Linked DNA regions of Homo sapiens. The protein of the gene in region 2 interacts with the protein of the main gene of each other region in a pairwise test. Each region holds a gene or a part of one and is shown on either strand. Other genes may lie near its edges.

Region 1 (7,051 bases), on a different chromosome or scaffold from region 2:
CTTTCCTCTCTTCCCTTTTATCTGTCTTAAGTTCTCAGCTTACTGTTATCACTATTATTAGCTAATATTTATTGGGTACTTGCCACTTGCCATACACCATACCAGATTTATGATGTGCATTTCATTAATACTCACATCAACTCTTTGAACTCAATACTATCATAATTCCTATTTTAAAGTTGGTGAAACTGAGGCCTGGAGAGATTAAATAAATTGGCCAGGGTTATAGAGTGTAACCTGTAAAACCAGGATTTGAACTCGGGTTTAGAGAACTCCAAAGCTCTAGTCCCACTTAGACATCACTTTTCCAAGCATGGAATTGGTTCTCCTTTTATGAGCTCCTAAAACGCTATAAACTTCCTTTTATATATATCATACCACGTGATAATTGCCTGTTTACCGTTCTGTATCTCCCACTATTATGTAACCTGTCAGGGCTAGGATCATGTCTGTATTGGTCAACATTTTGTCACCAAGGCCTTGTATACAATAGGCATGTAGCAAATATTTTGTTGAACAAGTGTTCTCATTATTTTAGATTAACCTTAATTCTCCCTCCTTATGACATATTTGGTGTTTCACAAGCATTCCCAATCAGTAAGGTCCCAAAAGTTCTATTATGAACGTAGGTGGTTTATAGCTGTTTCTTCTTCTCCCTTTCCCTGTCCCTGCCTCTTTCTATTGTTATTGTTGTTTTGTTTGTTTTTATAAAAATCTTGAGAAATTCCTTCTTAATCAAAACATCGTGTTTCATTTAATGACTTTTCTTCCTTGGAATTCAAGAAAGTATTCCTGTGAAAGCCCAGTGTTTGCCTGAATGGGGCCTCAAAGATTAATAAAACACAGGCCCTGTGTGCAGGAAGCCTAAGTTTTAGTGAAGGAAACTGTATTTACAGAAAGTCAGTAAATAATGTTAATTGTCTAATAATGTTGTATCTTTAGATTTTGAGTATTTTTTATGTTTAATACTTTAAAGAAAAATAAGCCGTTAGAGGCCTATCAAATTTTACATGACTCCAACTTACTTTTTAGGGAAAAAATGCAACTTCTCTGTTTGTTTGTTTTTAGAGACAGGGTCTCACTCTGTCACCTAGGCTGAAGTGCAGTGGCATGATCATAGCTCACTGCAGCCTTGAACTTCTGGGCTCAACAATCCTCCTGCTTCAGCCTCCCAAAGGGCTGGGATTACAGGCACGAGCCACTGTGCCTGGCCAAAAGTCAATGTTTAAATGTCAAATAATGTAAACAAATAATCTAAAAGATGATGTAGGAGAAATAACAGGGTGTGAGGATTGAATTTTTTAAATTAAAACTTTTGTGTAGATAATTAATGCCTACAGTGCCAAAATCAAAAGGTACAAAAGGATATGCAGTGAAAGTGGGTGTTGCCCTTCTACGCCCACTCTTGCACCTGCCTAACCAGTTCTCCTCCTTAGAGGCAACTACTAATGCCAATTTCTTGAGTTTCTGTCCAAAGGTTCTTAGTACCTAATGAATGATTAACTGACAAAACTTAACTTAAGCAAAATTGCAAAATATATCCTGTTTTGCAAAAGGCCCTTTTGCCCCTTTACTTTTTTTTTAAATTTATTTGTCATGTACCCTGTTGACTAGGATTGCTCCTTTTTAACAGCTATTTTATCCTTTCCCAGGTACCAAGTGTTAGTATGTGGGGTAATTTTGTCTTGGAGAAAACCACACAAATGCATTCTTACAAAGTGATAATAGCTTTAATTATTGTTTCCTTGAGCTTTTGCATTTGTAGGGGCCTCTTCAGGAAGAAGTCAATGCTTAGCACCAGGTAATAAATCCCAAAAGTGGAATTAGGCATCAAATGGGGGAATGGGGACATAAATGGAAGGGATGGGGAATATAATTTGGATAGATGTTCCCCTTTTATTAGGGTACTTAGTAGGACCTATATATTTTGGTTCTGGGTTTATTCTCTGGTTAGGAAAAAGCCTAAATATGTTCATCCTGGAGGCAAGTGAACATCAAGATAATGTCTAATAGCTATAGCTAACAAATGCCAAGTTTTTGAATGTGTGTGAATCCTAAAAGGTGGTATTATTAACCCTATTCAAAAGATAAGGAAACTGAGGCTCAGGTAACTGAGGTTAAGTGACTTGTCCAAAGTCATACACAGTAATAAGTTGCAGAAATGAGGTTTTTATGAAAATCTGAAGGTCATTTTTTGCATGAAGTGCTTGTTGCCAGTTGCGGTTAATCCTAACATAACATTAAATCTATGTAGAATAACTACTTAAATCCCATTTTACACATTAGTGATATGCAATCTAACTCGAACACTAAGTGAATTATTTTACTTCCCTTCTCTCGTAAATGAGAATATGTTGTTTTCACTTTAGTTTAAAAATAACAATTCAGTCATTTATATAACCCCCTAAATGGCCTAGGCACAGTTTGTGCGTAATTGTATCTTATTTACCAGCATAGTGGATGATTGCATTTTTAAATGCATAAATTTCCTCAAACTTCTGTTTAGTTTCAAGTGAGAAAGCTGCCCCAAACCATAATTAGAAATTATTCTGACACCAAGATGGAAAGTGAATGTGCTGGAGGCTCTTCACATGGCAGCAGATTAACAGTTCTTGATAAATCATCACCGCCAACTAGTTAGAACAACTGCTCCTTTTCAGGATTTTTTTTTTATTGTTTTGACTCTTCTACATGGCCTTGGCAGTAACGTTTGGAAATTGATGTGTCCCAGAGACTGGGATGCATCCAATAATGTAGTCTCTTCCTGTGCAGCTGATCTTGAAAGCCTTGAAAATAAGGAACAAAATGACTAGGGAGTGACTTCTATTAGATACTATTAGCTGAAAATGAGCTTTCTGCAGAGATTCTTAGACTCATTAGAGAACCATTATAAGACTAAGAAGGCAGGGCTAGATCCCTTGTAATTCAGATATGCTGGAAAATTGCCTTTGCATGTATTTGAATTCTTATTAAGCTCAGATTTCTTCAAAATTAGTTTTTATTATAATAATGGTAGGTATCCATCCATTAATATAAACCACAAAAACAGAAAAATCTACTTACAACTTTTCAACAAACAGATTTACCTTCCACTGCCTTTGTGTCATAAGTAAATTGTTTGTGGCATCTTATGATTCTCAATATAAATTTGGAGGTGCATGTTTTAAAAATGAGTGCTAGTTATTAATTTTATGGGCTTTTGCTACTAAAATCTGTAACCATTTCAGAAAGCCTCATTTTTTGACTGGAGATCTGGATATGTGTAGTGTTCCTTCCTGCTTATCAAGGGAGTACCATAATTAAAGAGAAAATGACTAAAACCTTAATAAGAGAGAAAAAAGTTTCATTTATATCTTATACAGAACATAGTGCAGTATTTATTTCAGGTTGTCCATAAATATTTACTTACATAACTGAATCCTCTGAACTTCCATCAAAATATTCCCCTGACCTTTGAAGTTAGCTTCCATCACTTCCCCTAAACTGATATTAGATATTAAATCTGTCAGACATCTCAGGCTCATTTCATAAGCAGGGGCTTTTCATCTGAATGGACAAGCAGGCATAATCTCAAGCAACAAATCCCATTTTAAAATGTGTGTGTGGTGTCTGTAGTCCCAGCTACTCAGGAGGCTGAGGCAGGAGAATCACTTGAACCCAGGAGGTGGAGGTTGCAGTGAGATGAGATAGCACCACTGCACTCCAGCCTAGCAACAGAGCAAGACTCTGTCTAAAAAAAAAAAAAAAAAAAAAAAAGTGTGTGTGTAATGTCATCCTAGTTCACTTTGTCATTATCAAGTAATTTAATAATGTACATCATTTTCCTGAAGCTGATGCTGCTGAAGGAGCAGTAGCATCACATAGAAAGGAATAAATCACCAGACTTTAGACTTTTGTTGCTAAATGTTTAGATTATCCAAGCAACTATGACAAGAGGAATCAGCATGAAAAAGTACAAAGAAAAGTACAAACTAATACAGGGTTGGTTTAATTTTGTCCAACAAATCAGTGTGGACAAGAACCCGACTTAGTTTAGGTTAGCAAATTAAAAGGACTATATCATTTAAGCTGCTTTTGCAGCTGGATGGGCTTATAGGGGTAAGTTATCATTCCAGTGAAGATACATACATCAGCATTTTCCTCTGTTTGAATATGTGTAAGTAAACCTTTGCCTTTATTAAAAGACGTTTTGGGCTGGGTGTGGTGGCTCACGCCTGTAATCCCAGCACTTTGGGAGGCCAAGGTGGGCGGATCATGAGGTCAGGAGTTCAAAACCAGCCTGGCCAACATGGTGAAACCCCCATCTCTACTAAAAATACAAAAATTAGCTGGGCGTGCTGGCAGGCGCCTGTAGTCCCAGCTACTCGGGAGGCTGAGGCAGGACACTCACTCGAAACGAGAAGGCAGAGGTTGCAGTGAGCCAAGATCACGCCACAGCACTCCGGCCTGGGCAACAAGAGCGAAACTCCGTCTTCATCCTTTTGCCTTGATTCTGTCGTCATTATTTTGCTTAAGAAATATTAAAGTTTTCCAGTTTTTGTGTGGCATTAATTATGAGTGCCATGATTGCGTGAAAAATGACTGCTTTTGATAGTAAAGGGATAATAGTTGTGTTACTCATATCTGTTAGTACATTCAATAACTGTCTATTATGTCCAGGCTGAATGTTTGGTGCTGGGGAGATACAGATGAATTAGACACTTCCACTGCCCCTGAGGATGTCACAGTCCAGAGAGGGAGGCAGATCAGTGACAGACACTTGCAGAACACGGGGGCAGATTTTATGACAGACCTCAGCCCAGTGCCATGGAAGCTCAAGAAGATGTGTCTCACCCACACCAAGGCTTCCCAGAAGGAGCGATTATTGAGTGAGAATTAACCAGGGGAAGGCAGAGAAGAGCAACCTTCCAGATACAGAGAACAGGATGAGATAAGATGGGGGTAATAGTCCAGTGAAGATTAATTTTATTAATGTTGAGAAGATGTAGAATTGAGAAAAACTCACCCGTGCCCTCTCAGATCTTTTGAAATTTCAGATCCAATTCCAAGTTCACCAAAAGAAACAGGTACAGAACTGTATTACTTTGTTTTGGGTCTAGAGGGATTTGGCCACTTTGCACACTTCATTTCTAAGTGTACTTCCCTCTTACTCTTATCCACATGCTCCATAATGGTCTGGAACCCCTTCTAGGATTCCTGACTGGCACAGTTTGGGAACAATGTAGCCCACTCTGGAGTTGACTAAAGTCTACTTTAAGTCTGAAACTTAAACATTTCCTGAGTTTGCCATTTAGATTCTGGTAAGGCACTTTTTTGGTGGTGGAGGGTGGGGGGGTCCTGTAAGTTATCAGTATATTCTTTGCTGGGGGTTTTCCCCCTTGACCCATAATTTGTTACATGAGGGTGTATCAGGAAAACCTGTCATCTTGTAGTATGTAGTTATATACAGATGCTCCTCAACTTATAATGGAATTACATCCGGATAAACGTATCTTAAGTTGGCAATATCATAAATTGAAAATACACTTAATACTTGTAACCTACCGCACGTTGTAGCTCACGCTACACTACCTTAAACATGCTCAGAACATTTACATTAGCCTATAGTTAGACAAAATCATCTAACACAAAGCCTACTTTAAAATAAAGTATTGAATATCTCATGTAATTTATTGAATACTGTACTGAAAGTGAAAAACAGAATGGTTGTATGAGTACTCAAAGTATGGTTTCTACTGAATTCATATCACTTTTGCACCATTGTAAAGTCAAAAAATTGAAAGTTGAACCATCATAAATTAGGGACCATCTGTACATTACCCATGTCAATGACAAATAAGACAAAACTAATTTCTATTTGCTGTTGAAATTATTTTTATTCACAAATCTCTCCATCTTGACATTAGTCACCATTGAATCTCAAGTGCAGCGTAAACTGAGAATGCATCTATAATTATGGGTTGAATTTTGCATGAGCTACAGGAGGCAGCCAGGTGGGGATACCCACTGTCCTGGGGGCAGGAGACACTGGTTTTGATTTTTGCAGTGATATTAAGATCAAATAGCTGAGGGATTTTTTTTTTTTCTTTTTGGAACCCGGGTTGTAGGGGAGAGAAAGTGTAGGGTGGGAAAGAGATAAGAAGATGGGAGAAAGTGGATGGGGAGCTGATGATAACTTACATTTGTGAAATGGAATTGGAGTTTGATAAATAAAAAATACTGATTTTATTCAACCAAAGACATTATACTTTTTCTGCTTAATTAACTAATCATATGAACTCATGCCTTGTTAATGATAATCCATTATGAGATGCAGTTGAATTTGCTAAATCTATTTCAAAAGCTCTGCTTACTCAACCATTTATAGCACATTTGACAAGTAATTTTTTCTATAGAAGACTTTAAATAAAAACCATTGAAATAGTGTAAGATCCTAGACCCACATACTGTCTGCCATCACACATCACTTTCCTCAGTGTCTGTCAGTTGATGTTTTTGTGTGGTGAATGTGAACCAGTGGCCTGAAGAAATGGAGAGTAAATGGTGATGAGGTATTGCTGTAAGTTGTGTTTTCTGTTATAACTAAGTCTTGACTTACCCATGGTAATTCTTTCTTACAAACCTTCCATATATGTGTGCTGGTTTCTATTCCTGATGCTGAACTGTTAGTTTTCTAATATTTAACTTTTGGCTTCCAAAACTACATGAAGTTATTTTTCTAAAGAAAGACAAAAAAAAAGAAAAAGATACCTACTTAAAAGTAGCCTTCCTATAATTAGCTGTGTACACATGTTAGCCAAATAAGGTATAGATGTAGTCATTTTTAGCCTGAAATGATTGAAAAAGGTGAAATTAATGAATTAATCTTGGTGCAGTTTCAAAATAGTAATGGAAGAAAAACATAGCCATTTTATTCTTTTAATTATTTTTTTCAGTCATAAGGGAACCATCATTTCAGGAAGAAAGATTATTATTACTACAGTTTGGCTTTAGGTCATATTTTAGGCCATTTATGATGTAATCATATTTTCCAGCTCAAGAGTTTTGTGTG
Region 2 (7,051 bases):
TGGTCTCTTTTCTACCTGGCCAAATCAGATGTCTTTCGAAGTCAAAGTTTAGATGCCACCTTCTCTAGAGCTTTCTCTGGCTGCTTTATGTAGTTACTGGCTCTGTTTTCTGCCCCCACAGCATCCTGAATAGCACTTTGGTTAAACACAGTTGTTTACCTGTCTGCTTTCCTGGCTTTGCAGGGGGAAGGCTGGGATTTAGTCACCAGTGTTTTCCCAGCAGCTAGCCCAGTGTGTGACAGATGCTGTGAATGGAATGAAAACAGAATTCCCTGCCTCCCCCAGTAATAATAGGATGCTGCCGGAAATTGAATGCTGCAAGAAATGTTGAGCTTCCTGGCATGAGATCTATTTAAGTAGAGGTGGTTGATTGCAGCTGAGGGGATTTGTGGATCAGATGAAAGTAAATCAGATGACCTCTGAGCTCCTTCCAGCTCTGTGATTCTGTGACAGTCCTTCTCTGAGTGATGCCACAGCGTGCCAGTGTCAGGATCGCCCACGCCCAGCAGATGGGGATTGTTTTTTGATGTCCTTACAGGCCAGTTTCCATGTAAAGATCGGTTAGAAACAATTTTGTTCAATTACTTTTTAAAGAAAAATTTTGATTTTATAAAATTACAAACTTAAAACTCATTTTTCTTTGAGCTTTCCATTTTAGCTAACAAAACATTATTTTGTTTATAAATCTAGCAAATTGTAACCGTGTTCAAGAGAGTCTGACTGTTTCATTAAATAATAAATGATTGCTTTATTAAGTGATTAGTTTTGTTAGAAAGTTGAGTTATATTCCTTTGAACATTTTAAACTGCATTTGTAAATGTTATATTTTCTATATCCCTTTGAAGTACTTTATTATCAGAATAACTAAGGTTGTGCCAAAGACCTGAGAGGCGACCTGAATAAGACGGGGTAGCTGGAGCATCAGTAAGGATAACTCTGCAGTGACTGAAACACGTCAAATATGTTCAAACTCTTGAGTTCATAATAACAGGAAAAAAAGGAATAAGAAAACGTATGAGTCTGTTTTCACGCTGCTGATAAAGACATACTCGACACTCGGTAATTTATAAAGAAAAAGAGGCTTCATGGACTCACAGTTCCACGTGGCTGAGGAGGCCTCACAATCATGGTGGAAGGTGAAAGACACGTCTTACATCGTGGCAGGCAAGAGAGAATGAGAGCTAAGCAAAAGGGGTTTCCCCTGACAAAACCATCAGATCTCGTGAGACTTACTCACTCCCACGAGAACAGTATGGGAGAAACCGCCCCTGTGATTCAATTGTCTCCCATTGGGTCCCTCCCACAACACATGAGAATTAGGAGAGCTACAATTCAAGATGAGATCTGGGTGGGGACACAGCCAAACCATATCAGTTACCTTTAGAGGACACTAGGGAACTGCTTCACTATCTTGAAAAAACCGGTAAAATAAAGGGAAGAACTCAAGAACTGATGCTGCCTTTCCGACGAGCTCCACCTCTCAGTGTAATTGGACATTGATGAGGGGAAGTTTCTCGTTATAACTGTGATCCAGCTATTACTCGAAGCAGGAGTGAAGGGCCGTCACCCCTTGTAGCCTCTGAGGAATCAGCCACTAGACAGGGATTGTCTGTGGCTGCCAATAGTGCAAGTGTAGCCACCAAGACATCCAGACAGTCTGCGTGTCTCTTGATGGAAACAGGCACTACCACCTATCTTTGGGTTTTAGAGGGAAAAAAAAAAAAAACAAACCTAAGTCTTATCAAGCCTCTAGATCCACGTGCCAACTTATAGGCTACACAAAAGATCAAGGAAAATGTTAAACCAAATCACAAGGATACAACAAACGATTCCCAGAAGCTGGAAAACTTTATTGGAGAAATGAACCTGACAGCAAGGGACCTATAAGGGTCCAGGACACTTAAAATCCACATCTGCCAATTTCAGCAGATGACTTTCTCAGATCCTGTTTCAGTCTGTGTGTGTGTGTGTGTGTGTGCGTGCACACAAAAATGAGTGGGGAAATATGAACCTTGATGGGATATTCGATGACATTAAGAATTAAAGTAATTTTTTAGATGTGATGGTGGTATTGTTATTTGGTTAAAAATATCTTGTTTTTGGCCAGGCGCGGTGGCTCCTGCCTATAATCCCAGGACTTTGGGAGGTGGAGGCGGGGGGATCACAAGGTTAAGAGATCGAGACCATCCTGGCCAACATGGTGAAACCCCATCTCTACTAAAGATACAAACATTGGCCGGGCGCGGTGGCTCGTGCCTGTAATCCTAGCACTTCGGGAGGCCGAGGCAGGTGGATCACCTGAGGTCAGGAGTTCGAGACCAGCCTCAACATGGAGAGACCCCGTCTCTACTAAAAATACAAAATTAGCCGGGCGTGTTGGTACATGCCTGTAATCCCAGCTACTCGGGAGGCTGAGGCAGGGGAATTGCTTGAACCTGGGAGGCGGAGGTTGCGGTGAGCCGAGATCGTGCCATTGCACTCCAGCCTGGGCAACAAGAGCGAAACTCCGTCTCAAAAAATAAAAAAATAAATAAATAAAAAATAAAGATACAAAAACTAGCTGGGCATGGTGGCGTGCACCTGTAGTCTCAGCTACTCAGGAGGCTGAGGCAGGAGAATTGCTTGAACCCAGGAGGTGGAGGTTGCACTGAGCCAAGATTGCGCCACTGCCCTCCAGCCTGGCGACAGAGCAAGACTCCATCTCAAAAAAAAAAAAAAAAAGAAAAAGAAAAAATCTTGTTTTTGAAGATAAATGGCAGTATTTGCAGATTAAATTACATGATGTTTGGGATTTGCTTCAAATAATTTCGGGGGAAGGATGAGCTTAGTGGGTGGGAATATGGAAGAAACAAGATTACCCATGAATGGAGAATTGTTGAAACCGGGTTTATTACACTCTGGCCTCTCTTTTTGTGTACGTTTGAAGTTTACCAAAACAAAAACTTTTTAAAAATTCCTTCATCTAATAACACAAACCCTCCCAAATATTAGGTACTACTTGAAAAATGAATAAACTAAAGAATAAACTCATGTTTGTAAGATTTTAAATTTCCAATCACAAGTCTAAATTACTCAGCTACATATTTTGAAGTGGAGCCCTGAGACAAATCATCTTAAACATTATAAATAATTAAAGTACCAAAAGTGCTCAGATTTTTCTAAATACAGATTATTCTCTTAGGGTTTCGTTTCTCAAACATGTTTATATGACACTAACCCACCAAAGAATCAAATATGTAGTCCCATACAGTTTGGCATTACCTTGCTAAGCAATTGCTGGGCTTGTCTTCTCAGTGGACCGAGGATTCTCGATGACCAACAAGACCTTGGCCAATATGCCAACTGGGCCCTTGCCCAGGACAGAATAGACAGACATCCCGAGTGCTCTTTGGAGTTGCTGTGGCAATGCCTTCCAAATGAAGTCTGGCAGCCAGGCCTGTGGGTTGCAGTCCTGGCATTACCTAATTTTCTTTTTTATTATTCTTGGAAGTTTGTAACTTCCACTAAGAGAATAACTAATGGCCTTTGTGCTTTGGTTGGTTTTGCATTTCATTGGTTTTGAAAAGATGCTTAAATGGCTTCCTGGCCAGCTCCAAAGACTTTTAAACTTGAGGGAGCTTTCTGTCTGTGCTAGGGCTTTGCCTGACCCTGCAAAGAAAGCCATTCTAAGGAAGCATGCTGTTCGAACATTTGCAGGTTCTGTCTCATGCCATGTGAGCCGAGCTGCGCATTACAGCTCATTAGTGGGCCCTGAGTCAGGCGAGTGATTCACAGTCAGCATTTAAACGCGTAATAGAATTGAATGGAAAAAGTTGAACTGCATTATGAATTGTAAGGAAAATATTTTTCAAAACTTGTTTTTCATTTATATGTATGTAAATATAAATGAGTTTCTTATTGTGGGTCACTATGAAATCTGCCACTTCAACGTGAGGTCGGGAAAACTGGGAGCACCCAGCACATGAACAAGAGCAAGAATGAATCCTGAATTGAGAGTGAGGAGGCTGGCCCCAAACCAAGCAAACACCAGAATGCAACCTTGCTTAAAACAAACAAGAGCTACAAAAATAGAGCAAGTGGTGGCTCCTTAGGGGAGGGACAAATTTAGTGGAGGAACAAATGATTGTTGCTAAAGACATGGACTGCGGCATTTTATTCTGTAACTTGTGTCTTTTATGTCTGTTCCATCTTTCTATGCTCCTAATTCACCACTCCCTTTTGGTAGCACAGTGCTTGGTGCAATTAGGCAATCAATAAATATTTATTAGATGCAAATACTAGTAATCAAACCACCTGTTTCAGGGGGCCTGGGAGGAGGAGCCTGGGGCCTGGGAATCTACATTTTAACAAGTTTTCCAGGCAGCCAACCTGGCAGCAGTTGCAGACTGTTATTTAAGAAACACTGACCTAGTCCACCTGCTCATTTTGCTGGCCCAGGCCATACAAACAGCATTTGAACCAGTGAGAGCTTGGGTTGGCCACCTTCTGGTGGAGGGCTCTACCCACCACGTCACCCAGCATCTCATGTTGATCTGCTTTTCACCAAACATACTGCATGACCTTCTAGTAGGTGGTCTGGACTCCATGCTTCCTCCCTACCCCGTCACATCCTTCCTGTTGCCCTCAGACATTTCCCTAAATCACCCATCATTTCACTTCCCTGCTCTATACCTTTGACTTTCTCTCTATTGTTTGTAGCATAAGACTTACTGCGCATTCTGCTTGACACAGTCTTCCCTGATCCTATCTCCCCAATCTTGTCTCTCTGCCAGTCTCTGAACCCTCTTCTTTTGCTTTCTCTTCCTGCTGAGGCACCCCAGATTACTTGATGTGCCACAGGTACCTCACCCTTTCCTGAGTCTGATCTTTGGTTCATGTTGTATTCTCTAATTGGAGGAGCCTCTATTTTCATCTGAGTTGCATCCACCTCCCCAGACCCAGTTAAGTGCCGCTTCTATAAAAACTTCCCAGCCGGGCGTTGTGGCTTGTGCCTGTAATCCCAGCACTTTGGGAGGCCAAGGCCGGCGGATCACCTGAAGTCAGGAGTTTGAGACCAGCCTGGCCAACACGGTGAAACCCTGTCTGTACTAAAAATACAAATAAATTAGCTGGGCGTGGTGGCAGACACCTATATTTCCAGCTACTTGGGCGGCTGAGGCAGGAGAATTGCTTGAACCTGAGAGGAGAAGGTTGCAGTGAGCCAAGATCGTGCCACTGCACTCCAGCCTGGGTGGCAAGAGTGAAACTCCATCTCAAAAAAAAAAAAAAAAAAACAAAAAACAAACAAACCCAAAAAACCAATTAAAAAAAAAAAACCATTCCCTGCTTTGGAGCGAATCCATCCTCCCTCTCCCTGTGCCTCTCCTTGTTCTCTGCACATTTCTGTGACAACACCTAAGCCTTGCCTGCCTTGGACTTTGTGAGCTTGGCCTGTGTTTGTCTGATGAGAAAGCAAGTTTGCAGAAGGCAGTATTCGTGTGTTCTTTACTTCTCTTTATAGCCTTGCAAACAGTCTTAAACATTTATTAAATTAATTTTTCTATGAGTTCTGATTCTATCAAAGTTAATATTCATTGGCAGCTTGGCCAATTAACTTGTGTAAACAGACCTCTAATCTCATGTGAAGGCTCAACGCTCTTTGTGATTTCTTTACAAACACACCCAAAAAAAGCACTGCAGGGTTTGTGTGCTGCTCACGGTCAATAATTTTTAGTTTGTTTCCCTGCAGAGAGGAGGTAGACAGGTAGCAAAAGGGGAGCATGATCTTAAAGCGAAAGAGTTAGCAAAGTGGATCTTCAATAACTGCTTTTTTTTTTTTTTTTTTTTTTTTTTTTTGAGACAGAATCTCACTCTCTCACCAGGCTGGAGTGCAGTGGTGCGATCTTGGCTCACTGCAACCTCCGCCTCCCAGGTTCAAGTGATTCTCCTGCTTCAGACTCGGAGTAGCTGGGACTGCAGGCGCACGCCACCATGCCTGGCTAACTTTTGTATTTTTAGTAGAGACGGGGTTTCACCATGTTGGCCAGGATGGTCTCAATCTCTTGACCTTGTGATCCGCCTGCCTCGGCCTCCCAAAATGCTGGGATTACAGGTGTGAGCCACCACGCCCGGCCAATAACTGCTGTTTTTAAGAGACGAGGGTGGGAGTAGTTAGAGAAGTGAATAGGGCGTAAATGAAAACACAAGACAGGGTGGTGACTAAAGGGCCTCTGTAGTGCAGCCCATCCGTGTCTGTTAGAGAGCCCTGCAGCTTGGCTCTGCAGCCCATCCTAACTCTGTTTCAGGTCACTTCCATTCTCCATCGGCTATTGGAGAAGCCCAGCACTAGGAGCAATATTTTGGTCTATGCCTGAGATAGCAAATCCTCTGCCCGAAATTGGAGGGTAGAGCAGAAAGCTTAGCACAAAAGCGCGCAGGCTCAGACACTTTCATTTTGCTGACTTTGATGCCTATTAAATAACTTTCATGCAGTCACACTGGGGTGATTTTGGAAAGTGAAATCATGCCAGGCACAGTGGCTCACGCCTGTAATCCTAGCACTTTGGGAGGCCGAGGTGGGTGGATCGCTTGAGGACAGGAGTTCGTGATGAGCCTGGCCAACATGGCGAAACCCTGTCTCTACTAAAAATACAAAAATGAGCTTGGCGTGGTGGCTCATGCCTATAATCCCAGCTACTTGCGAAGCTGAGGCAGGAGAATCACTTGAACCAGGGAGGCAGAGGTTGCAGTGAGCCGAGGTAGTGCCACTGCACTCCAGCCTGGGCAACAGAGCGAGACTCTGTCTCAAAAAAAAAAAAAAAAAGTGAAATCATTATTGAATACCTTTTTTGTTTCTGTGGCAGGAAGTAAACCCAATTTTGAAAAGGTTAAAAATCCTCAAATTGAAATACTGATTTGTGTTTCGCTGTTGCAGGTTCCTTGCATTGACTCCATGGAGAGTATATCACCTGATTTCCGTCATGATACTTGGGCGTGTTATTATGCAAATAATAAAGGATATGGTTTTGTCTAGAACAAGAGGTAAGAATACTCAGATTTTATTTATATGGTA
Region 3 (2,775 bases), on a different chromosome or scaffold from region 2:
TCAGCAAGTAAGGCTGGTCTTCATGTCCACCCGCCTATGCCACTCTCCCTTCTTGGGAGCATGATGGCCTCCTGCATTGCCCTCTTGCCCTCCATCCACCCCCCCCATCCTCAATTCAGGAGGCCTGAGGGGGGGCAGCCACTAAGCGTGGGGGTGGCATCATGGTATGGGCTGCCAGCTCCTGCCCACCCCACCCTGACAGGTACCTGACCTTCCTCCTGGTGGTGACCATCCTCATTGTCGTGAATGCTGTGGTTGTGCTCAATGTCTCCTTGCGGTCTCCACACACACACTCCATGGCCCGAGGGGTCCGCAAGGCAAGGACCCTCCCTGCCCACTTCAACATCCCGCTGCCCACTCCCCTACGCCTCCCTCTCGCACGCCCCGGCAGTACTCACCTGTGGCATTCCACAGCACACCCATCCTGGGCGTATCTGGACGCATGGACCAAAATCGATTACAGTAATACAGGAATGAAATTGCTTCCTAGGTGCCCGGGATATTACAAATGTTAATGTATTTCATCTTCATAAAACCCATATCACCTCCAATTACAGATGAGGACGTTGAGGCGCAGAGAGGTTAAGTAACCTGCCCAAGGAAGTGCACTACAAAGTCGAAAAAGCAGGAGTCTGCCAGGGCAGTCTGATTCCAGTCTGTGTGATCTGTAGCCCACCTGCAGCCTTCAGCTTGGGCCCTTGTTGCACATGCAGATTCCCAGGCCTGTCCCAGGCATTCTAGGCCAGAATAGCATGAGGGCTGGGGGCAGGAATCTGTGTTTATAACAAGTGCCCTGGTGATTCTGATGTGCACTGAAGTTTGGGGACCCAGGCTCGTGTCCAGTATAGAAAGCTTTACCAAGGCCACGTCACTGCCCCGGTATGCTGCCTCCATGGTCCCTAGCAGCACAAGCCCTTCACGCCAACCTCTGGCTTCTGCTCTGAAGCTCGGCCTGCTGCCCTAGTGAAGCCACCCCCTCTCTAGGTGTTCCTGAGGCTCTTGCCCCAGCTGCTGAGGATGCACGTTCGCCCGCTGGCCCCGGCAGCTGTGCAGGACACCCAGTCCCGGCTACAGAATGGCTCCTCGGGATGGTCGATCACAACTGGGGAGGAGGTGGCCCTCTGCCTGCCTCGCAGTGAACTCCTCTTCCAGCAGTGGCAGCGGCAAGGGCTGGTGGCGGCAGCGCTGGAGAAGCTAGGTGAGACACACCAGGTGTGCCTGGGGACAGTCCTCCCCTGGGACCCCAGCTGGGGAGCCAGGCACAGCAGATGAGTGCTGGAGAAGTGCCCAGGTCAGGGAGAGAGGAGCTGGGGTCCCTAAGGAGAGGCCATCTTCTCTGCCTGTTTCTCCTCCATTCTACTCCCAAACCTTACCCTTTCTCTTTATCAGAGAAAGGCCCGGAGTTAGGGCTGAGCCAGTTCTGTGGCAGCCTGAAGCAGGCTGCCCCAGCCATCCAGGCCTGTGTGGAAGCCTGCAACCTCATTGCCTGTGCCCGGCACCAGCAGAGTCACTTTGACAATGTAAGCTGAGTCAGGGTGGGGTGGAGGTGGAGTGAGTACCTGGGCTTGGAACCGTGATAGAGACAGGATGAGTGGGGTTGCCAAGATAGGGCAGTGGGATGGAAAAACATGAGGCCGGGTGCAGTGGGTCACACCTGTAATCCCAGTACTTTGGGAGGCCGAGGCGAGTGGATCACCTGAGGTCAGGAGTTTGAGACCAGCCTGGCCAACATGGCAAAACCCTATCTCTACCAAAAATACCAAAAATACCAAAAATTAGCTGGGTGTGGTGGCGGGCACCTGTATTCCCAGCTACTCAGGAGGCTGAGGCAGGAGAATTGCTTGAACCTGGGAGGCGGAGGTTGCAGTGAGCCAAGCCAAGATCGCACCACTGCACTCTGGCCTGGGTGAAAGAGTGAGACGTGAGACTCCGTCTCAAAAAAAAAAAAAAGGAAAGAAAGAAAGAAAAAGGAACAGGGGCAGGGGGGGCACCTCAGGGCCAGGGGGCCATGGAATTAGCCACCAGTTGGGACCCGGACATAGGTAAGAAGGGCCCCAGGAAATGGAGACATGGGCCTGCTGGAAGCCCAAGGATGAGAACAGGACCCAGGGAAGACCTGGTGCCGCCGCTGGTTATCCCACACCTGCCTCCCACCCTCAGGGGAATGAGGAGTGGTTCCTGGTGGGCCGAGTGCTGGACCGCGTCTGCTTCCTGGCCATGCTCTCGCTCTTCATCTGTGGCACAGCTGGCATCTTCCTCATGGCCCACTACAACCGGGTGCCGGCCCTGCCATTCCCTGGAGATCCACGCCCCTACCTGCCCTCACCAGACTGAGCCAACCAACCACTGTGGGGCATGTGGGAGTCACACACGTGGGTCACACTGAGTCTTATCAGCCACGTTCTCCTACTGAGGTCCTAAGTGTGCTCTTTGGGAAGTGCCCTTCAGGACTGTGTGAGCCAAACAGCCCTGAGAAAAGCTGGGGAAACAGTCTGAGCTGGAGTCCGAGAGTGGTTGGGGGTGGGCCGTGGCTAGTGTCCTGCTGCAGTCAGCACACACGTGGGATTGGCTAGCTCATCCTGGCACCAGCCACCCCTCCACTCAGTGCACTCCCCTCACTTAGGCAAAGCATTATTCATTCCCATCAGTCTGAAGCCCGAAGGACTGTTTTGTATAATACCTTCGGACTTGGGACTGGCTCCCCTTTTACAAGTTCTCCCTGAAAGAGGGCAGTCACAAGAGGTGTGAAGAGTAGCAGCCGATGCTCTCTCCAAA
Region 4 (7,158 bases), on a different chromosome or scaffold from region 2:
TCAACAGCACCCATTAACCAATTTATGCAGATGCCGTCTGGATAATGGGGTTCCAAGCTGGGAAGTCAGACACCTGAACTGTTTCAACCCAGGATATATTTTTATGGAGTTGAATTATTGATGTGCCTCATAGGCAATGAAGAAAGAAATGACACCATTTTCATGATCACGTTTGGATTCTAAGCAATCCCAAAAACTTCCCCGGCATGGTCCCCAGCTTCCCTTCTCCTACCTCTGGCTCTGAGGGCAAGAAGATAGATGAGAGTTACTGAGGGATGCCAGGTCTGTCTCCAGAGCCCCGGAGGCTGCCTACAGCTGGAGGGCTGAATCATCATGGCTGCCCACGCTGGGGGGGAACCATCCTCAGCAGGTCCCTGCTGGGAGGCAGGCAGAGTCCAGCCCCACAGGAAGAACAGGGGGTCCCGCACCTTCACCTAGCCTTTCCTATGGTGAGTGGTACGTGGAAAGAGCTGGTCTCTAAGAAATCCTGGGCCCCAGAAGAGCAGATGTGGTCCCCAGCATCTGCACACTTGGGCAAAACTGAGTAGGTCACTGGAGCAAGTACCCACTATGTCACTGTCCTTAGAAGGCCCAGGCTGGAGTGCGGTGGCGCAATCATAGCCAGGACCACACCCACAGATGGCTGTGCCACACAGTCCACTATGCAAAATGAGTGGACCCCCTGGCAGGAATCCACGTACTCCCCTATAGAAAGCAGCATAGGAAGTCCGTGGTGAAATGCAAGCAAACATCTTGTTTTTAAGAATCTCCTTGACAAATAATATCTGGTGGAAACCTTGGCCTTAAGACCTTCCTCCAGCAAGGTTCTCGGGGAAGAGAAGGGAAGAACATCAGAATCCCAAACTCGGAGTGAGGAGGGATGGAAGGGTCAACTGAATCACACACTCAGGTACCTACGGGGGCCTAGGAGATAGACTGTGCATCCATAGATGTGAATTGAGCCACCCACAGGAGTGGAGAGCTCTGGGCCCACCCTAGACACTGTATGTCTGAGAAAACATGTCCCACTGAATGGAGTCCAAACCTCAGCCCAGCTCAGCTGCTGGAGGCCACCGGCAGCCAACAGCCAGCAGTCTGTTGTGGGTGGTGGTGGGTGTGGACACTGGAGGTTTACAAGGTCACCCAGGCACCCCCCAGCCCAGCAGCCCACTGTCTTGAGCTATAAAGGACACCACGTGCAGGAGGACAGTGAACTCTTGGCTTCAGGAGGCCTGTTCTGGGCACTTCTTGCCATGCCGGGAGAACTGTCTCCCTGGTCCAATGGGAAGAACATCAGTGATGCACAACACCACTAGAGAAAACTCATGAAATGCACACACCCGCACGCACAGCTCCCAGGTCAGTGGCCAGAGGGAAGCTCCAGGGTGCTCCATAGGAGCAAGTGTTTCGAGTGCCACGGTTTGACAACCCCAGAGTGCTTAAAGCCATAAAGAGCAATGGCAGATGGCATTCCCAAGCCTATCTCCTACCTACCTCACTCCCGGTCCCCACCCACCATGGGATCCAAGATCACGGCAGGGTCCCCAGCGGCTTTGTCTCTCAGTACCCACTCCCTCCTGGAAGCTGACCTCCAGGAGGACCCTGGTGAAGTTCCTGGGTGGAGGCACTGGGAGACCTGGATCCCCCTGACTGGCTCTGCCTCTAACTCACTGGGTGACCTTGATAAGGTCGCTGCCCTCAGTAGGCCTGTTTCCTATGGTGCCAGATGAGGGAGTCATCTTAGATGCACAGGAAGAGGATGGAACACCCTATGGCTTGCCGGGCAGAAAATCAAGGCCTGTCACTCCTGCCTTTCACCTGTAGAACTCCACCTGTCTGAACGCCAAAGTCAAGATGACTTTGCCAGTCCATCCCAGCTAACCCCAGCAATAACGTCACCACGTTCAGGGTGGGTGGGCCTGGAGCCTGTACCAGACCTGGCACTGATAAAACGGGCGTCTTTCCCTACAGCTTAGGCTGTTTCTTTAAAATATGGTAGCACAGCTGGCAGAAGAGACAAATACACCTTTAAGACCTGCCAGCGGACAGTATTTTACACTAAGATGTCAAAGGCAACAACACCTCAGGACAGGAGGATGCATGCGTCCAAGTGCTAGAACAAGCATGCCACAGGCGTCCACCCAACTCAAATGACCAGTCGCTTATTTGAGCTCCTGTGCTGGCTAGAAATTACAGCTTAAGAGGAATAAAAAATTCCATTCAGACGTGCCGCTCCAGACACGAGGCCTATGAGCAAAGTTTCCGGTGGCCTCGCCGCCCCTCCCCGTTCCGGGAAGCCGGGCGGGTCACCTCGTCCTCAGATTAACGAGCAGCTCAAACAACTGGGAGAGCCCGGCGACAGCTTCTCCGGGGCACCCGACACCCTCCGCCAGGAACCCCAAATATGGGAGGCCTGGCCTCCAGCCAGCACCCCCGCCTGCTGCTCGATCACCTCCCCAGCATCTCCATGATCACACCTCCTCCCACGGCGCTCGGACCCTCCCGAACAGGCCCTGCGGAAGGGCCCACCGGCCACCTCCCCGCACAGCCCGGGGGCCTATCTGACATCCAGGGCCCGTTTCAAGGACACTGCAGCAGGCAGCCCGGTCTCGGGGGTCTTCCGCCCGATTGCCCCCCTCCCAAAAACGCACACACACAGAGACACTGACAATGCCGGTAGAATCGAAGGCGAAGGCTTTCCTTGCGCCCTGCAGTCCAACTCGATGCTGGCCCGGAGAAGGCCGGGCGCCGGAGGATGGAGGCAGCGGAGGCGGCGAGCGGATGCCGGAACGCAAGGCTGCGGCCAGGACCAGCGGCGGCGCGGGCGGGGGCTCACCTTTTTGACCTGGTCATCCTTCAGCTCCGTGAAGTAATAGGCCAGGAGCTGCGCGGCGATCATGCTGGCGGTCGGGGTCGCGGGGCGGCAGGCGTGGGGACGGTCGGTCCTCCGCAGCCCTGGCGAGCCGTGGTCCTCCGGCGGCTGCTCGGCGGCTCCTCCTCCTCCTCCTCCCCCGGCTCCTCCCCCTCGGCCCGGGGCGCGGCGACAGCTCGCGCGCTCCCGGTCTCCGCGCTCCCGTCCCCTGGAGGGTGACAGCCGCCAGCCGACCCACCTCCTCCACGCCCATTGGTTGCGGCGCGCCTCTGCAACGCCCGGCGGTGGCGTCCCGGCCGGGGAGCGGGGACGCGGCGGCCGCTCCCTCCTGCGCCGGAAAGGGGGCGGGCGACGCAGCGAAATCCCCCCCGACCCCGCATCATCCTGCACGTCCCCCACGTAGGGAGCCGATGCGGGCCTTCACGCGTGGCGGCGCCGTGCCCGGGTGGGCCGTGCCAGGCGGGGAGGTGCGAGGCGCAGGCAGGAGGCACCGCCCGGCTCCGCCGGGACGAGAAGCCCCTAGGGCTAGTCTAGGGACTGGCAGCCCCGGGGGCACGAAGGCGGTCCCATTCCTCGGAAATGAGGGCTCGCCCCTAGGAGTCCGGTGGACGCCGAGGTGCCGGAGGGGACTTGCAGAAGTGGGCGTGGAAAGCGGGCGGAAGCGGGAGCCGGGGACGCTACGCAGTCCTCGCACCCGGGTCCCGCGCCTTCCTCACCCAGGCCGAACGCACCGGCCTACCTGGGTCTTCAGCGGCAGTGCATCACCTCTCCCCGGCGTGCCCCGCCTAATCTCCAGCTGGCAGATTTGTATTGCTGAACCCAAAGCGACACCCCAGAGCACCCGCCCCCGAGTCACCAGCTCCGGTGGCTCTCCCTCAGGGCGCACTCCCTCTGGGCGGGACTTGGGCCACAGGTCGTGGCCTGTCCCCATCCTCTGGGCCTCCTCTTGCTCTTGGGCATCCAGGCCCACTGGGACTTGGGGCACGGTTCAGCGCCCCTTCCCAGGTGCCGTGTTTTCTACTTTCCCAGAGGAAGTTACGTAGGATGGGAGGACTCCCTAGAGGTGCTACCAGGACAGCCACTTTAGGATTCTTAGATTAATTATTTCTGTGTTCCGGAAGCCTCCAGGAGCTTTAGTGCCTTACAAAATGACATGTAATGAGCTCAAATATACAAACAAGTTGTTGCTATTCTGGTTAGACAGGTAAGGAAATTGAAGCTCAGTGAGGCCTCAGTCTTGCTGGACTTTATACAGCCAGGAAGTTGTAGATCTAGGATCACAGCTTGGATCTGTGAGTCTTTGAAGCAGGTGCTCACCTCTAGGGTTTGCTGTGGTCCCAGTTGTATAGAGCCCCTCTGCCTAAATAGGTCACTTTCCTGCAACCAAGTCTGCACCATATGGTGCCCTGAGATCCAACCCCCAACCTCTACCCTAGCTCTTGACTTTAGGAGTCCCTAGCCCTTGACCAGGCCTAGCAAAGGTACAGTCAAATCAGAGGGAGGGATGACGTAGGTTCAGGGGCCTGACAGCCACCATCACCCACAGAAAAGGAGGAGCTTAGATGCAGTCCTGAGGCCCCAGCTTCCTGTCCAGGTCACAGTCCCCACCCCCTGCCTTAGGGCCTATGCAGAGGGGCATCTTGAATCACCTCTGAGACTGTGTCTTCATCCATAAGATGAAGACACTAATGCCCACCTCACCTCCCCTTGATTGTTGTGTAATACTGTACGCAAAATACGTGCACATAATACACACTTAAGGAATGGCAGGTATCATAGAACTGACTGAAAAGTTAATGCGGTTAAAGCTTCAGGGACTCTCACTTTCATTCCTACCCTTCTAGGCCCTGGGAGGGCCTAGCAGTGTGATATTTGTATATTTATATTTGAATTATTTTCCATAGAGAGTGCCAATTTATTTAATTTTCAAGCCCAACAAAACCTGGATTTGCCCTGGATCATAATTATAAACCAGGAAGAGAGAGATTTTCTGGTACACATCAAACATTTGGAACTACCTACATGGCCGTTAAGCAAAATGGAGTGAATGAGAACAAGATGGTTGTTCTCAACTGCCATTTCATTTGAGTTCTGCAGATCTGCCAAGCTCACAGGGCTGGAAACTCCTTGAGGATGGAGGACTATGTTTTGCTAATTGCTCTGTCTCCTACACAAGCGCAGGGCCTGGCACTTGGCAGGCTGAATAAGCCTAATGCATAATCAAAAACATGGCCCTTAACCCAGCCACCAGCCGGTGCCATCACCCATGCCCAACCCGTTGTTACAACTCCTATCTGAGCTGGAGCCAGGGAGAAGCTGACGCTTGGAAGAGCCAGGTTACCCTGAAATGTCCTGTTTGCAGGCAGGAAAGCTGCCTCTGCTTTGTCTTCCCTGGCCTTTGAGAGGGAAACTGCTTCTCAAGGTGACTCATTCCTCCCCACTCCATGAATGCAACCAGGCCCCAAGGCCTGTCAATATTTCCTGAGAAATGTCTCTAGGCCTGACCTATTGCCACCTCCCAACTCCCAGTCCATCTCCCTGTGCCAGAAATATTACAAGAGTCTTCTAACTGTCCTCCTCGGCTCCTGGCCTCATGCCATCCAAGTCATTCTGAGCACCAGGTCACATTAATCCTGCTAAAATGCAGCATAATCATGTCATGACCCTTCCCTAAATCCCTTCATGGCCCTCTCCTTCCTGAGAGAGCCAATTTAAACATCTCTGCCTGGTTTCCGAGGCCTTCTGTAATCGACTCCACTCTTTCCCACTTATCTCTTCCTCCACTCTGGCCGCAACAAGGCCACTTCCCACCATCCTCTGCCCCCACCATGTCCACTCCATTTGTTCGCCGCTCATATTCCCTTCCTTGCCCTGCCTTCTCCACTCACCTCTGCCTGACCAAGCATCCCCTCTCATCTAAGGCCCAGCTTGCCAACCTTCCCTGGACCACAGCTACTCACCCCAATCTCCCAGGCCTCAGCACCTCGACAGGGCAAACTCAGGCTGTGCTCACAGTCCATCTGGATATACACCCAGACTCCTCTTTACAGGGCAGGAACCTGGGATGCCACAGGTGGGCCATCTTGCCCAGTGTCAGGTTGTGGTAGAGTTTTGAGCCAGGACTCCAGCCTAGTCCTGATGCCCAGCCAGTGCTCTGTCCATCCCACCCCCAACCCCTCATGCAACCTGGGCCTCAGATAAGTAACACTGAGTCATGACTGCCTAACTGATATGGGTGACTGTCTTCTAGGGGGCTGGTCCTATCTGCCCCAATCAGACAGCTTCCTGAGGCCAGGGCCCATGCTGCACTGCTGTGTCCCCTCTCTGTTGTTCCAGTGCTGACTTCACTAATTTCCTTAATAATTTGCCTCTTTTTGCTCTTGCATAGCTCTTAGATCCCTGCTAAGGCTCCTTGACAGTTACTCCCTGGATCCTCAGGAAGACCCCAACCCACAGGGAGTCCTTAGTTCCCTCCCTCTCCAGATGGCCCTCCACTTCCCTTCAAGTCCCCTGAACTCTCTCTACTCATTTACTGTGGTACCTCCTACACAAGTTGGGGTTGGAGTGACCAGTGCCAGGCTGCCACCCCAGGAAACGCACCTGCTTATAAGACAATAAAGGCTGCCTTCTAAGTTGGAATGTCTGTACCAATTCCCATCTGACCCATGGCACTAGGAATGTTACTTCAGGAGTGATCTCCAACAGATAACAGCTGTACCTCCCGCACCTGGGAGCACACTCTGAATAGCAATGTTTACATAACGTTGACAGTTTGCAGAGCAATTTCTCATTTATTGCTTCATTTCTCCTGATAACAGCCTGGTGAGGTTAGAAGGGCAAATATCATTATCTGCACTTAATCAGTCAATGAGGATGTGAAGGTTATAGAGCTTGGGTGTTTTGGTTTTTTTCTTAAATTGAAATGAGGTCTTGCCATGTTGCCCAGGCTGGTCTCGAACTCCTGGACTCAAGGGATCCTCTTGCCTTGACCTCTAAAACTGCTGGAATTGGCCAGGCGCAGTGGCTCACGCCTGTAATCCCAGCACTTTGGGAGGCTGAGGTGGGAGGATCACGTGGTCAGGAGTTCGAGACCAGCCTGGCCAACATAGTGAAACCCTGTCTCTACTAAAAATACAAAAATTAGCTGGGCATAGTGGCAAGAGCCTGTAGTCCCAGCTACTTGGGAGGCTTAGGCAAGAGAATCGCTTGAACCTGGGAGGTGGAGGTTGTGGTGAGCCAAGATTGTGCCACTGCACTCCAGCCTGGGCGACAGAGTGAGACAGTCT

What was found.
Region 1: the proteins of RETREG1 (region 2) and DDAH1 interact in a two-hybrid assay, tested with the Homo sapiens proteins (one study listed by IntAct).
Region 3: the proteins of RETREG1 (region 2) and TIGD1 interact in a two-hybrid assay, tested with the Homo sapiens proteins (one study listed by IntAct).
Region 4: the proteins of RETREG1 (region 2) and HK1 interact in a two-hybrid assay, tested with the Homo sapiens proteins (one study listed by IntAct).

What each region holds. Positions count from the first base shown.
Region 1 is NC_000001.11:85,455,130-85,462,180, reverse strand, and holds part of DDAH1 (N(G),N(G)-dimethylarginine dimethylaminohydrolase 1), read left to right. Parts: intron 1-7,051. UniProt on the Homo sapiens protein: Hydrolyzes N(G),N(G)-dimethyl-L-arginine (ADMA) and N(G)-monomethyl-L-arginine (MMA) which act as inhibitors of NOS. Has therefore a role in the regulation of nitric oxide generation.
Region 2 is NC_000005.10:16,571,965-16,579,015, reverse strand, and holds part of RETREG1 (reticulophagy regulator 1), read left to right. Parts: intron 1-6,913; coding exon 6,914-7,020; intron 7,021-7,051. UniProt on the Homo sapiens protein: Endoplasmic reticulum (ER)-anchored autophagy regulator which mediates ER delivery into lysosomes through sequestration into autophagosomes.
Region 3 is NC_000002.12:232,543,383-232,546,157, forward strand, and holds the end of TIGD1 (tigger transposable element-derived protein 1), read right to left. Parts: 3' UTR 2,335-2,775; coding exon of another isoform or gene 2,161-2,334; 3' UTR 1,521-2,160; coding exon of another isoform or gene 1,390-1,520; 3' UTR 1,199-1,389; coding exon of another isoform or gene 985-1,198; 3' UTR 501-984; downstream 1-500. Other genes in the region: CHRNG (acetylcholine receptor subunit gamma precursor), read left to right, coding at 1-7, 203-317, 985-1,198, 1,390-1,520, 2,161-2,334.
Region 4 is NC_000010.11:69,314,689-69,321,846, reverse strand, and holds the start of HK1 (hexokinase-1), read right to left. Parts: upstream 3,001-7,158; 5' UTR 2,900-3,000; coding exon 2,837-2,899; intron 2,784-2,836; exon of another isoform or gene 2,670-2,783; intron 1-2,669. UniProt on the Homo sapiens protein: Catalyzes the phosphorylation of various hexoses, such as D-glucose, D-glucosamine, D-fructose, D-mannose and 2-deoxy-D-glucose, to hexose 6-phosphate (D-glucose 6-phosphate, D-glucosamine 6-phosphate, D-fructose 6-phosphate, D-mannose 6-phosphate and 2-deoxy-D-glucose 6-phosphate, respectively).